Linked DNA regions of Homo sapiens: region 1 is reported to be linked to region 2. Evidence: microRNA targets listed by miRTarBase, many of them from high-throughput screens and not tested one by one. Region 2 holds a microRNA gene; the other region holds the end of a gene's coding sequence.

The links. The annotated mature microRNA hsa-miR-4777-5p reads UUCUAGAUGAGAGAUAUAUAUA and lies in region 2 at 4,572-4,593, shown strand. An mRNA with a match to its seed (bases 2 to 7 or 8) in the 3' UTR can be bound and repressed. Matches are read on the target gene's strand: a 7mer-m8 pairs with bases 2 to 8, a 7mer-A1 pairs with bases 2 to 7 and ends in A, and an 8mer does both.
Region 1: miRTarBase lists CDC23 as a target of hsa-miR-4777-5p. Seed matches in the 3' UTR shown: 7mer-m8 at 1,899-1,905.

What each region holds. Positions count from the first base shown.
Region 1 is chr5:138,182,980-138,189,982 of GRCh38, reverse strand. It overlaps CDC23 (cell division cycle 23), which reads left to right. Exons shown (of 16, transcript NM_004661.4): 14 at 77-155; 15 at 231-350; 16 at 835-2,333. The coding sequence ends at 1,005. KIF20A (kinesin family member 20A) reads right to left here. Exons shown (of 19, transcript NM_005733.3): 7 at 6,993-7,003; 8 at 6,620-6,814; 9 at 6,402-6,513; 10 at 6,227-6,295; 11 at 5,878-6,021; 12 at 5,579-5,744; 13 at 5,307-5,471; 14 at 5,037-5,176; 15 at 4,786-4,888; 16 at 4,273-4,471; 17 at 3,931-4,022; 18 at 3,552-3,689; 19 at 2,260-2,887. The coding sequence ends at 2,570. Among named protein-coding and RNA genes, the nearest start is that of KIF20A, 7.4 kb to the right of the region's middle.
Region 2 is chr2:231,358,152-231,365,737 of GRCh38, forward strand. MIR4777 (microRNA 4777) reads left to right here and starts at 4,557; the gene lies at 4,557-4,642. It overlaps ARMC9 (armadillo repeat containing 9), which reads left to right. Exons shown (of 25, transcript NM_001352754.2): 23 at 2,603-2,732. RefSeq lists a silencer at 2,346-2,640 and an enhancer at 2,518-3,161.

The DNA of each region.
Region 1 (7,003 bases), not on the chromosome of region 2:
TTATGTACTTTTACTTTTTTTATCACTAAGTTGCTTTGGGATATCATTGGTATTTAAAGATCAGTTTCTTTTGTAGGCTTCATGAACAGTTGACTGAGTCAGAACAGGCTGCCCAGTGTTACATCAAATATATCCAAGATATCTATTCCTGTGGGGTATGTATCATACCATGAGAATTGTACTGCTGATATTATTACTGTCACCTCAGTAATTTTGCTTTCCCTTTCTAGGAAATAGTAGAACACTTGGAGGAAAGCACTGCCTTTCGCTATCTGGCCCAGTACTATTTTAAGTGCAAACTGTGGGATGAAGCTTCAACTTGTGCACAAAAGTGTTGTGCATTTAATGATGTGAGTATCAGTTCTTTAATAAAAGGTTTGAATTTTAGGCTAGAACATAAGATATTTAAGTGGAAAGCCTACCTTGGCCAGGCAAGCGGCTCACACCTATAATCCCAACACTTTGGGAGGCTGAGGCAGGAGGATCGCTTGTGTCCAGGAGTTCAAGACCAGCCTGGACAAAAAAGGGAGAGCTTGTCTCTACAAAAATTAAATTTTGCCAGGTTTGGTGGTGCATGCCTGTGGTCCCAGCTACTCAGGAGGCTGAGGTGAGAGGATCACTTGATCCTCTGCAGTGAGGTCGAGGCTGCAGTGAGCCTTGATCACACCACTGCACTGTAGCCTGGGTGACACAGTGAGACTCCATCTCAAAAAAAAAAAACAAGCAAGCCTCCCGCCTCCTTGATCTGTGGAACTTGTTTAACAGCATCTTAATAACTTGTTTTCGAGACTAGCTTTGGACATGTTTTGAAACATTTCCCTGACTTTGTTGCAGACCCGGGAAGAAGGTAAGGCCTTACTCCGGCAAATCCTACAGCTTCGGAACCAAGGCGAGACTCCTACCACCGAGGTGCCTGCTCCCTTTTTCCTACCTGCTTCACTCTCTGCTAACAATACCCCCACACGCAGAGTTTCTCCACTCAACTTGTCTTCTGTCACGCCATAGTTGGCTACTCTCAAGCCAGCACATTGTTAGACCCATCTTAATTAAGCCTTACCTCCATGTAAAGAACAGCACGTCTGTTCCAAGGACCTCAGCTCTTCTTGTTTCTACAGATGGCAACAGCTCCATAGGGACAGCTTGTATAATTACCTTCAGAGGCCAACTGACAGAATCCTGGCAGGAACAGACATTATCTTGCCAGTTAGAAGTACTTCTGTCTCACTTATGTCCAAAGAGTGGCTATAGATCTTGGCCTTCTTCCCTGAATGCTTTTTTTTTTTGGCCCCCAAGAAAGTCCCTTTTATAGCACTTTAGCACAGGCAATGCTACAGGAACAAAGTTTCAATGCTGCTGAGAGTGAAAGAAAGGAGGAAAGTCTGCCACTCTACCCTGAGCTGGCAGTAGGGCACTGAGTACCCTAGGAAGAAGTCAGAGCAATGGATACAAATGACCTTGCTCTTGGATTTGCTGAGCATGATCCCTATTCTGATGTCAGAGATTAGGTTTAAATGGAATAGAGCTATCCATTTGTTCTTACTCTCTAGGGAGACAATCTTCCAAAACAGTTTTGGGGGGGTCTTCTAAAGCTTTCAAATTGGAAGTAACTTTATTCAACTAGAGTTGAATAAAAGAAGGGCAAAAATAATCTCACAGAGCTTGGAACTGCTGATAGCCCTTACTGAGGGCAAAAGATGGCTATATTGTTAGCTATACTCCTACCAAAGCAAGCAAGGAGATAGGATTATAGATAATTTCACGGACATTTGGAAATAACATTGGTGATTATACAGACAAGAATAAACTCACTTCAAGCTGGTCTGTTTTAATAAATTTTCAACGTAATTGTCTATTTTTTTCCCTCCCATCTGCAACAGAATACATTTTTTTCAGCCTTTATCTAGATGAGGTAAAGGGAATCATTCTTATGGTGCTCTTGGAGAGTTTCAGGCCTGTGCATGTGTGTACAGCAGGAGGTAATATGCTATAATGTCTGCTGTAATATATTTGCACAGTAGATGCTATGGATCATTCTGAGCTCAGGGTCCAGACTTTATTCTTATTCCCAGAATTTTGTGTTACGTTTTTACCTCCTAACATATGACACTTCATCTTATATTAAGGAAGGTTTAGAATATCTAATACGACTTGAATTCATTTGTTACTAAGCCTTCTCAGGCAAGCTGTATACTAGTTACTGGTCTCCACTGCCATGCCTTTTCAAGGTTCCCATGGTCCAGAATGATGTTTGATTCTTAATTTTTCTGTCCCTTTTATAATTTGTTTTAATGATTTTGCTACATTTGGAATTCAATAAAAAATGTGAACAATAATATCTTTAATATAACTGTTTTTGTGTGCATAGAAATCATATAAGTAAATAAAAAAAAACAACAACATGAGATTACATAGGTGGTTATAATACAAAAGTGAGAAAAAAGCTAGTGTCTGAGTATTGCATCCTGGATATAATTCCTGATATATGGTAAAGCATAAAAGAGACCTATTTCTTCAGGAGAGTAGCTGACCCACCTCAGGGCCATGACTGCTCTTCTCTTTCCCCACAGCCTTAGTACTTTTTGCCAAAAGGCCCAGATTTGAGTAAAGGGGAACGCCGTGAGCGTAGGATCCGGGCATAAGGGCTGCAGTCTGTTGAGCTTTGGCAGGTTGGTGTTCGGGGAAGTAAATTTCGAAGGAATGGTTTCTTCCCTGGTGGTTGTTGGTTTGGTTGCTGATTTTCCTGGTTGGTACCAAGGCGCTTTTTGGCAGAAACCTGGCCTTGGAGTTTCAACACAGTATGATACTGCTCAGCAATACATGCTGCCTTCTTCCGAAGGTCCAGTTTCACTAGCACCATGTTGTTCTGCAGTTCAGCCAGAGTCTGGTCCTAAGGAAGATCAATAAAGTTATAGAAAACACTTTTGTCTGGTATATTAGAGAAACGAGAGGGCTAAGGGTAATACATACCATCCATTACTAGTTACTAACAACTGTTTCTTCAAAGATTAAAACTCTTTAAGGTCGGAGCTTATAACTGAATAAGGGGACATTTTCTGAGAACAAAACATAAGCAGTGCTGAATAGGACATCTTCTAACACATAAGGTAGTATGAGCTTGAGTAAATTTAATTTCTAAGTGCCTCAGTCTCTAAATGTCAAATTAAATGTTGAGTTTAGTTTAAGATACACAATTTTAACATTTTAATCTCTTTGGAATCAGGATGCATCTTACTGATGAGAAATTGTTACTTTTTTCTTAGTAGTACATAAAATAATGGTTTCTTATAATCAGTAGCATCTTAGATGAAATATGACAGTAACTACCTCCCTAAGGTGGTTGTGACAGAAAATGCCTATAAATTACTTAGCACAGTGCCTGGTACTTAGTAAATGCTTAACAAAGAATAGTTATTTTTATTTTGCAAATATACTGCTCTCACTATAAATTCAGCCTAAAAATCTTTACCTTTTTCTTCTGGTCCTCTTTCCTTTCTCACATATACACTGGAGTGGGCTGGTAGGACAGAAGTGGGTATATAGTTTGCCCTAACCTGTTTGATTAAGATGTCATCACAAGTGGTCAAGGCTTGACGAAGTTTTCCTGCCCCAGTGCTGTGGCAACAAGCTCTCTCTGCTGATTGGAGAGACTCACCAAGTTTCTGAAGCTCTGTCCGCAACAGCCTTATATTCTGAAAAAGGGGAAGTAGGAATCATATTGTGGCCAAGAGCAACCAGGATAATGATCTGGAGGGGTCAGGTAGCCATTTGAAGAGAAGTAAAATTAGAAAGGCTAGTCAGCTGAGTGAAATAGCCACTCTCCAGAACTGTGCACAAAAAACATCTTGTCTTCACATGAACCAGTGATAGAGTGTTGGATGTGGGAAATTGCCTTAGGTAAGAGTTTGGTAAACAGAGAATGGTGGTAATTACCTTCTGGCCCTCTTCTAACTTCTTGTCCACATCAATGGTGAAGGGCTTGGCTGAGGGTGGTGGTTCTAACATTTTCTGATACTTATGCAACTCTGAGGGAAGGAAACAGGAAACTTAAAATATGTGGGGTTTTTTTAGCCTTGGACTAACCTCTTTAACTGAGGTAACAGTAGCTTGCAGCAAATATAAAAAGTGAGGCTATGTGTATCCTAGATTGAAATGTCAGGGGGATGTAGCTTGCAGTTTAGGAAATTATGTTAGAGCAGGAGTTAGAAGGCCTGGGTTTAAGTAACAGCTCTTCCCTGAACCACTGTTATGTTTCCTGCCTGTCTCTTTCCTCACCTTCAGTGGTAGAGTTTAGCTCTGCTTTGCACTGCTGTAATTTAGCTTTAACCTCCTGAAGCTGCTGGGTGGAGGCAGAAGCTGCCAACCTTTGTGACCGCCGTAGGGCCAATTCAGACCCTGATTGCTGATGGGCCACTGACTGTTGTCTGGCTTCCTGCAAGAGAGCTTCTAGCTCTTCAATCTTTTCATCCCGCTCCTAAGAGGGAAGCAGAGAGCACAATTCTTTGCAGAGCCAGAAAAATATTGCTAAGACAGATGACTGAACAAACAAAGCACTTGTGACACTGATCCCTTGAAAACCTGTTGTTAGCACTTAATACGATTTCCTGGCCAACTAAACCCTTAATCAATTCACCAAACATAGATTGAACCCAAAGCACTATGGGGAATAGAGAAAAGGGAGTTATATATTCCTGCCCTTACTGGAGTAGTTTATAAAATCTCTTTACTTCAGGCAAGCTAGTGATGGAAATCTGAGCAGCTAATTGGAGCTGGCTCAGGGCAACTCACCTGAATCTCTTCTTGGTAAAAACTTGTCAGTGACTCCTTGAGGATATTTAGTTTTTCTTCATACATTTCCTCCAATAGTTCCTTTTGGGTGTCCAAATGTTCACTGTCAGAAACAGAGGAGAAAAGAGAGGTAAGTGAAGGTTCTGAGGAGTGAACTTGGGGAACAGATCTTGAGGCACAACTCCACCTAACTCCTTACTTCCCACCCTCTGTCTCAGGTGACAGAGCAAGAGGGGTCACTCAGCTAGTACCTGCACCACTGTTCCCGCTGTTGCATCTGTTCTACCATCTCATTGCAAATTTCATCTCGGAGATGCATCTCCAGCTGTAGCTTTTCCTGTCGTTCCTTCAAAAGCAGTGTCTTCATGGCTTCCACAACTTGTAGGAGCTCCTAGGAGAGACACACATGTCAGAGGTCATCAGATGCTCATGCCCTCAGAAGGCACAAGCCCACCTGGAAGGCACCATGGAAAAATGTGTAGCTACTAAGCTGCTACACTAAAGCTTTCTTGTATTCTCACCTCTTTGCCATACATGGAGATGTCAGCTTCATTTTCAATATCATCATCAAGGCCTGTGTCTGCCTTAGCCCCTTTCTCTAAGCTGGGGGATACCTGAAGACTATGTTCCTTGATGAACGAGTGCAGGGATGGGAATCCCAGTTGCATAGGTGGGGCATGCACAAGCTAGAGGGAAAAAAAATATCTTACTTGACTCCATAAGTAGTCCCTAGGAGCTTTCTTAGAGTTACCAGTTCCAAGTGCGCACACCCATCACACCTCTAGCTTCTCACCTGGCTAGCAATGGCTGAGAACTTGGCCACATGAAGAGTTTCATCATAGGTAGATGCACAGGGATTCACATTGACAATCATGCAGGAACGGCCTCGGCCTGTGAAGAAACCTTGGAACACTCGAGTCAACTTGCTGTCACGGAAGGGAACCAGGTTCTGCTTTGACCTGGCAGAGAATCAGAGATAATAGAGCTGTGAGCAGAACACCAGCCCTTTGGGTATCCTAGCACCATCCCCAGTGGTGTCCAGGAAGTCTCTTAGCAAATTGCAGAGCCCAGGAATTATAGTCAAAAGCTCACCGGTTCTGCTGGTTTTGACGAAGGGCAGCAATACAGCGGCCCAGGGTGTGTAGAGAGGTGTTAATGTTTCCTGCTTCCTTCAACCGTTCACCACTCTTCTGATCTTTGCAGCGCTCTGAGCCAGCCAGATCACAGAGTGACAGCCTAGAATGATGCACAGGATCTGACATAAGGGCCTCACATGTTATGAGCCTTCTGGCCCTTTGTATAATTCTGGAGAGGGGACGGCCCACTAAGAATCTCTGTACCCAAAGAAGGAGAACACATAGTTCCCCTGAGGACCTCCTCCATGCTTTCCCAACTATCATTTATGGCCAAGAAGCCCAAATTTCTAAATGGATAAACTTACTCGCTGATCTTGGGGACTATATCTCCTTCCCCCTGAAGGTGTAGGATCCTGATTGAGAAGATGCTGTGACTGGAAGTTAAGAAAAACAAAAAGTCATTGCACATTTTCCATGACCAGGCAGAGGACTAATGTTTCCTGGAACACAGTGAAGAGTTTATTCTTACAATCTACTCACCTGCGGCTGGAGTTCTGGTTGAGGTGGGTGCTGGCAAAGCTCTGGTTCTTACGACCCACTTTTAGGAGCTTCCAGGCCTCCTCAGCATCTTGCACATGAATCCAGTTGAGATCTGGGGCCAAAGGAGAGGGGTGTAAGATGGGAACATCCAACTCTTTTGCCAGTCTCTCCCCAGTTGCCCTCCAGGGTTCATGCCAGCTTTCCCCATGTTCCTTTACCTTTCACATAGGGATTGCCATTTTGATCCTCGCATAGCCGCAAAGTCTGCCTCTTGCGCTGTTGGCTAGGCGGTTCTAATAGGTCATAAAGCAGTTCGTTGTAGATCTCAAAGAATGAGATCCAGATGGAGAAGCGAATGTTTGCCGGGACAGGTAGTGGGGCAGTGTCTGGCTGTGCCCATCGATGACTTGTTTCTGGAGAAGAAGCCAATGTATAGGGCATCAACCTAGAGCAGTTCACCTCTCTTTTGGCCTGCAGGGGCCTTGGAAGGCAGACCTTAGATTGCAACCTCTGGTCTGTACTCCTGGCAGCTATTAGGAACAGGGAGTGAGTTCCTACTATTTTTTGGCAGAGCCCAGTCACGGTACATACCATCCAGCTGG
Region 2 (7,586 bases):
CTGCGGTTAAGTCCATTAAGCCAGGGTATGAATGAGGGGGAGGGGGATGAGCAGCAGGGACAGCAGGGAGTGGGCAGTGCTGGGCTGGGCATGGGCACCCCTGAGCCATGTTGCCTTCTGCTTCATTCCTTCCCTGCTCAGGAGCTTGCTCTGACTTCCTCCAGACAGTCCTGCTTCTCCATCCCTCCCCTCCACTTCAATTGATTGATTGATTGATTGATTGATTGATTGTAGAGAGAGGTGTCTCTCTGTGCTGCCCAGGCTGGTCTTGAACCCTTGGGCTCAAGCGATCCTCCCGCCTCGGCCTCCCAAAGTGCTGGGATTACAGGCATGGGGCCCCCTCCACTTCCCTTCTCTCACTCACCTTGCCCCAGGCCCATCCTGGCCCCAGGCAGCGCTCCCCACAGGTCTCCTTGCACACAGCTCGCTGCTGAGTCTGGCCTGTGCTGGGAACTAACGCCCCACCCAGAGACCCCGTGGAAACCCCCACCTTCACGCTGAGTTTCTTGAGGAAGAGCCTTTGCGCTTTGCGTTCAGTCAGCACCGCAGGGAAAACTCATGAGGAGGAACCTGTTGGACCCTCAAACTGCTTGATCGGTTGAGTGCAGGCCCAGAAAGTACATTCTAGGCAAAAGACAGCCCCAAATGCCAACAGGAAATAGTTCCCAAGGGAAAAGGCCAATAATATGGCTTAGCATTTTGCAGAACGTTGGCCTAAGGAAAGCTATTCTCATTTCCCCACCAACCAGGACTATCTTCAATATCAAAATCACATGCCTTGGGACTTCATAGCCCTGGGAGTTAAAATGCCCAGCCCTGTCTGAAATGGACCAGCAGGCAAGAGATACTACTGTCCCAGGAAGACCCCGGTGCACACCCATGGCTGCCCCATCTCCTAGCTCCTGGCTGTCTTAGTTAGGGGGGTCTCCTGTTTTTTTTTTTTTTTTTTTTTGAGATGGAGTCTCGCTCTCTCACCCAGGCTGGAGTGCAGTGGTGCGATCTTGGCTCACTGCAAACTCCGCCTCCCGGGGTTCAAGTGATTCCCCTGCCTCAGCCTCCTGAGTAGCTGGGATTACAGGCATGTGTTACCATACCCGGCTAATTTTTGTATTTTTAGTAGAGACAGGGTTTTACCATGTTGGCCAGGCTGGTCTCAAACTCCTGGCCTCAAGTGATCTGCCTGCCCCAGCCTCCCAAAGTGGTGGGATTACAGGCGTGAGCCACCGTGCTCAGCTGGTCTCTTGTTCTTGGTGGGACCTCTGAAAGTCTTCAGTGTGGCCTGTGCTGGAGGAAGTAGGAGAGGAGAAGGGGACAGTTGAACCAAGACCACCTCATGGTCTTGGGACACTCCAGCTCAGTTCCTCCTTTTTTATGACCACCCCGTCCCCTACGCTCACACCCCCTGGGAAGCTCCTGGTCCTGGTCCTAGAGGACTTGCCTGGCGTGGGCACAGCTTTGTGACTCCACACGTTGTAATGGGGTTCCCCTGCGTGTAGCCCAGCAATTCGGTGTGACTTCACTCAAGTATTCTCTTGTACACCTACGCTTTTTCTCCTGGCCTTATTCTAAGCACACTGAGCATGTGCCTCCTGTCCTGAAGCTCTATTTCTAGACCCAGATCCAGGTGGAGACCGCCCAGTGCCACCCGCTGGGTTCTGGTATCAGAAATAGATTCTCGTTTGGGTCAAAAGAGAATTATCTGGAAGTCAAAGCCCCTTGCTACAGGGAAACCTGCAGGGAAGATCCCTTTATATTTAAGATTAAACAGATCACATTGCAAAGCCACAGAGGAGCTGCTAAAATGAAAGAGCTGAGAGGAGCTTGGCCTAAGGGAGTCACGGATGCAGCCTCTGTCACAGTGTCGCTGCAGCAGTGACATGGACCCCTTCAGCTGTAGGAGAAGAGGAGAGGCGGGGTGGGGGAAGGGGTGCGTGGCATCTGAGATGCAGGAACATCTGTTCCCAGGCCCTTGGGGAGCCCTCCGTATGCTATGATGCTATCTGGGATTCTCCGTCTGCTTCCCCGTGAAGGGCTCCTGCGTGTCCCGGGTGGCCTGGTTCTGGGTGGGCATCAGCTACAGCACAAGTCACTGGGAGTTAGGGCACTTCCTGGCCACCCTGGGTGTACCGAGTGGTTCAGCATTAAGGAGCCTTGGGCTGCTCGGTGAGGAGCACCCTACCTCTCAGGTTGTTGGTTTTAGCAAATAAAACTACACACCACCCAGTTACATTTGAGTTTCAGATAAGCAAATGGGCCTCCACATTCTGTCTGGGGGCGCCTAGCCATGGCCCAGGGAGACAATTTGTTGTTCTGAGGGCTTTCCAGAGGCTGAGGGGTGCCAGGAAGGCTGAGCGGCCAGGGTGATCTGAACCTCCCTGGGCTGTGCCTGTCACCACCAGCAGTGTGCCTGCCATCCCCCGCTACCTGGCAAGTTCCCGGGCTGCACGAGTAAACAAGTATCCCAAGCCACAGGCGCCAGGGAGCCCGCAGGGCCTGGCCTGGGGTGCGTGCTTTTCTTGGCTTTCCAACCCAGCCCACGAGAGGGCATCCTTAGAGGGGCTCCAGAGCAGATGTGGACTGAACTTTCTCTCCTCCTCCCCAGCAGCCATCATCGCCAAGCCAGGAGAGTGGCTCCCAAGAGGACGCCAGGAAGAGCCTCGCCCAGCCCCCACGGGGACCCCCCGCCAGCCAAGGGAGGCGCCCCAGGACCCAGGCAATGGAGTGACCACCAGGTAAGGGGGATATCACAAGGCCTCGAACCTGACTCTCGGAGCTCTGGGAGTGGGCGCCCCACGCCGGATGCAGAGCACCCAGGAGACCTGGAAGGCTCCTCTGAGGCCCAGCCTCTGACAGGGGAGGCTAAGGAGCAGTGTCAAGATTCCCAGCGGAGTGCAGCCGCCACTCCTGACCACCTCGGAGGGCTGTGCTGCCTGAGAGCCATCAGTCAGACGGGAAGGACACAGCACTCAGAAGCATGCCCATGGGACTAGTTTTCAAAACTGCCAGGCGGACTTGTCCAGGGCTGGGTGATGGGGTGACTTAGGGACAGTGTCCTGTCAGCTTTTTGCATTTGGAGGAAGTGGGCTGTAGGGCAGAAAGATGGAGAAGGAGGTGAGTAAATGGTTTGGCTCAGAGGTCACTTCCTGAAACAGAAACTGGGCCTCCAGGCTGGGGCGTGGTGGCGCACGCCTGTAATCCCAACACTTTGGGAGGCTGAGGCAGGAGGATTGCTTGAGCCCAGGAGTTTGAAACTAGCCTGGGCAACATAGTGAGACCCTGTCTCAAAAAAAAAAAAAAAATCAAAAAACTAAAAAAAAAAAAAGAAAAGAAAAAACTGGACCCCCGAGCAGAAGAAAAAAAAAAATAGTGTCCTCTCTTCCACTGTGCCACGTGAGCACAGACTGGCCCTGTGGGTTATTAGGGGTTCTTTAGGGTCTAGAAAGGACCTTTCCAATCTCGCCAGCTCTTTCTTTTGGATCTGGAGAAACCTGCTCAGGGAGAGGGGCCTGGCCTGGGTCTCAGACCCTGCCTGTCCCTGACCACCAGGCATGCCAGCTGCCCCTCACCACTTCCTCCTGGCCATGAAGGAAGCCAACCTCCTGCGGTAAAATATGGGGCTGGAGCAGGCTCAGCTTAGTTCTGGGGGCCCCCGGAGAGGACAGGCAGGAAGACTGAGCAGAACCTGCACCCACTGGTGGAGAAAATCGGAGAGAGAAAGAGGCAGGAAGAGAAATCAATGGGGAGTGGCAGACAGGAGGAGGATGTAAGAGAAAGGGGGCGCAGACAAGTGTGCTGAGCTTCCTTGGGTGGGATGGGCTAGAAGCCGAAATCGGAACTGTGGGAAGGATGGGAAGGACTTCAAGACCTGGGCTAGGGAAGGGTGGGGGCAGTCCCAGCTATCTTTAAGAAGCACGGGGTCAAAGGTGGCTGCATTACTGGGGGAGGGGCCAAGCCTCTGGACTCCTCCAGTTCCACTGCCAACCTGCCTGGGGACCCAGGGACCTACCTCCCCTACCTGGGCCTCCTCCCCTCTTTCTGTGGCTGAAGAGGAGCTTGTCAGCTAGACCAGGGGTTCTCAGGCTCTCAGCATCCCCCTGAAATGGGGACTCAAAATGAGAGACCTCTGAGGAGTGGGCTAGAGCTATCTCATGCCCCCAGTCCAGACTGGATCCTCCCCTGCGGTTCAGCCAGGCCAAACCTACGCTTCCGGTATAGGCCACTTCTTTTTACTTCCTGCAAATGCTGAGTTCATTTCTGAGGCTCTCCACTGGGGACAGCCCTCTCTCCCCAGAAATAACTGTTTTCACAGTAGGTAGGCAGCCGACCCTGAGGGACCTCATTACATCAAGCAGCGTTGCCTAGCTGGCCCCCCAAGATTCTACTGAGCACAAAGACCCCTCAGGGTCCAACCCAGAGGTGCCCTCCCCTTGGTGTCAGTCACTGAAGCCAGCTCTTATTTTAAGCCTGGGAGTTCAGTGTGAGGAAGAAGAGGATGGAAGGAGGGAGAAGTACAAGTTGTTCCATCTTCCTCTTCCTCCCTCACTGGCAACGTCATCTAGAATATTTCGGCATTCTAGATGAGAGATATATATATACCTCATATGTATATGGTATACCTCATCTAGAATGCTGTAATATTCTAAATCACAAGTGGCCATCTCTTGTCAGGCTGACTTCAGCCCCAATTCAGGTCTCACTGAAGCATCCCTTCCTCCTGCCTGACCCCAAAGTGCGGGTCACGCCCTTCTGCCAGGCTCACAGAAGCCACAGTCCCTCCACGGGGCGGAGACCCCACTGTGTTGTCATGTGGCTGCCTCTCACTGCCTCAGAGACAAGCGCAGTGTGCAGGGCACAGAGAGCGTGCAGGGCCTGCTGGGTATACGGGGAATGCAGGGCTGCAGGGAGTGTGCACAGTGTGCAAGGTATTCAGGAAGTGCAGGGCTGCAGGGAGTGTGCAAGGAGTGCAGGGAATGCAGGGCATGCAGGAGTGTGCACAGAGTGCCAGGAGTGCAGGGCATCTGTGCTGTGCTTCTGCACCTGGCCTAGGTGGTTAGAGTACTTGTTGATGAACAAGTAGGAGAAAGGGAGAAAGAGTGGTTCTCTATGTGGCTTTGGTGGGGAACGTTTGTCCCCTCAACTTCCCCGAGCTCTGTTCTCTTGCTCTTTCAGGTGAGGTCTCATACCCAGAAGAAGAATTGGTGGATGGGCAGGAAGCCCTTGGGGCAGAGGTCTGGGGTCAGTGGTAGACTGAATGATGGCACTGTTACTTAGCCCAGGAAGCCCTTGGGGCAGAGGTCTGGGTCAGTGGTAGACTGAATGATGGCACTGTTTACTTAGCCCGGCTTTCAGGTGTTTTAAGGATAATGGCCACTCAAGCTCTGTGCCAGTGACTTCCAGCAACTGTCTTGCTGTAAAATTACTTTCTCGGAGGCTAGAGAATAAAAGTCTAGACCTGCCTGGCGCAGTGGCTCACGCCTGTAATCCCAGCACTTTGGGAGGCCAAGGCGGGCGGACAACGAGGTCAAGAGATCAAGATCATCCTGGCCAACATGGAGAAACCCCGTCTCTACTAAAAATACAAAAATTAGCTGGGCGTGGTGGCACGTGCTTGTAGTCCCAGCTACTTGGGAGGCTGAGGCAGGAGAATCGCTTGAACTGGGAAGCAGAGGTTGCAGTGAGCCGAGATCGCACCACTGCACTCCAGCCTGGACGACAGAGTAAGACTCCGTCTCAAAAAAAAAAAAAAAAAAAAAAAAAAAGCCCAGACCCTACAATCATGGTGCCTTCCCCCAACCCCCATGGTGAAATTTTCCTTTTCCTTTGTCAGCTTCTTAGACTCCTTAGATTAAGTAGCAGGATAAAACGAATGTTGACCAGCTTTAAAGATGTATTTATTAAGAAACAAATGCATTTATCCTGCGAAGAGCCAAAGTGCATCCCAAGAAGTATGTCAGTCCAGACCACAGAGGCTGAGTTGCACCCCGGAATGTGCAGGAAGGTGATGGCAGGGCTGCCTTGACTGTCACCTGTCAGTCCTTCTCAGCATGGCCCTGCCACTCCAGAAGAGCAGCCCCAGCCAGGTGTGGGGTGCTTGTGCCTGGAAGTTCACCTCCACGTGGCCTGAGGACAGGTGAGGGAGGTGGCTCTGTCTGAGGAGCTCCTCGCACTCAGGCCCAGGACAGGATCAGAAGCAAATGTCAAAAATCTTGTCCTGCCACAGATGAGAAGTGATTCTTTTGCAAGTGCTGTGACTTTTTTAAAATGAGAAGAGATTGTACATATGTCTACATGTATGCCTTTCCCCTCACGTTTGTCCCTGAGGATGGACAGCAGCTCCCAATGGCACATTCATGCATCCAGCTAAAGAAACAACACATGCTCATGCCTGGAATCCCAGCACTTTGGGAGGCCGAGGCGGGCGGATCACCTGAGGTCCAGGAGTTTGAGACCAGCCTGACCAACATGGTGAAACCCTGTCTTTACTAAAAATACAAAAATTAGCCGGGCATGGTGGTGCATGCCTGTAATCCCAGCTACTCGGGAAGCTGAGGCAGGAGAATCATTTGAACCCAGGAGGTGGAGGTTGCAGTGAGCCGAGATCACACCATTGCACTCCAGCCTGGACAACAGGGCAAGATTTCATTTCAAAAAAAAAAAAGAAAGAAAGAAAGTGGCCCTCGGCAGAGCATCAGGGAGCTGCCCCTTGGCCTGGCAGAGCCCACCCCGTGAGGCACCCTGACCACCTTGGGGGCTGCTTCAGGCAGTGCCTGTGTTGACCTAGGAGGCTGGGCCCCTATCATTGGATGCTCCAGCTGCTCTAGGAAGGATGCAGTGGGAGGTGGGGTGGACGGCTGTTGGTAAGTGTCAGCTGAGCCCCTGGTGGCCTCAGGGCCCTCCATCCTCCCAGCATGGTGAGCTCAGCAGCCTGGAGGCAGCCAGGAGCCAGGGCCAGGAAATGGCGCTGGTCTGGCCTGAGATGAGGCCAGATTAGGGCAGAGCAGAGAAACCATGTGGAAAGGAAGTCCAGGACGGCAGTCACCTATGACATAGGGGAAGTCACGTGCCGCAGAAACGCATGGGACTGAGTCCTGGAAAAAATGTAAAGGGTGATATACGGGAAAGTTGGGAGGTGCTCTGCAAGGTAGGCGATTGTTTATTAGAGCAGCCTGGCCCTTATATGATCTCAGCGTATCAATAGGAACATTGTGTTGGGAGGGAAGAGCCATAAAATGCCTCGGGAGATGCTGAGTCTTTCCCTGTGTTTGCAATGCTGCTGAGTCATAATCCGGCTGCTAAGCATCACCCAGCAGAGGATCCTGTGTCCCTTCTGTTTGCATTAAGCCCAAAGAAAAGCATTCAGGGCCCCTAGGCGACTCTGCCCAGAGGGTTCATAACCGGCTCTCAGTTATTGCTGCGGACATTTCATCTGGATTATAAGAAAACCCAGAAAGGGGCAGAGGTGGGGAAACGGGCCAGAACAGAATACAGCAGATAAAGGCAGATAGGAACCAGCCGCACACACAGCAGATGGGAACCAGCCGCACACACAGCAGATAGGACCCAGCCGCACACACAGCTCCCATGCC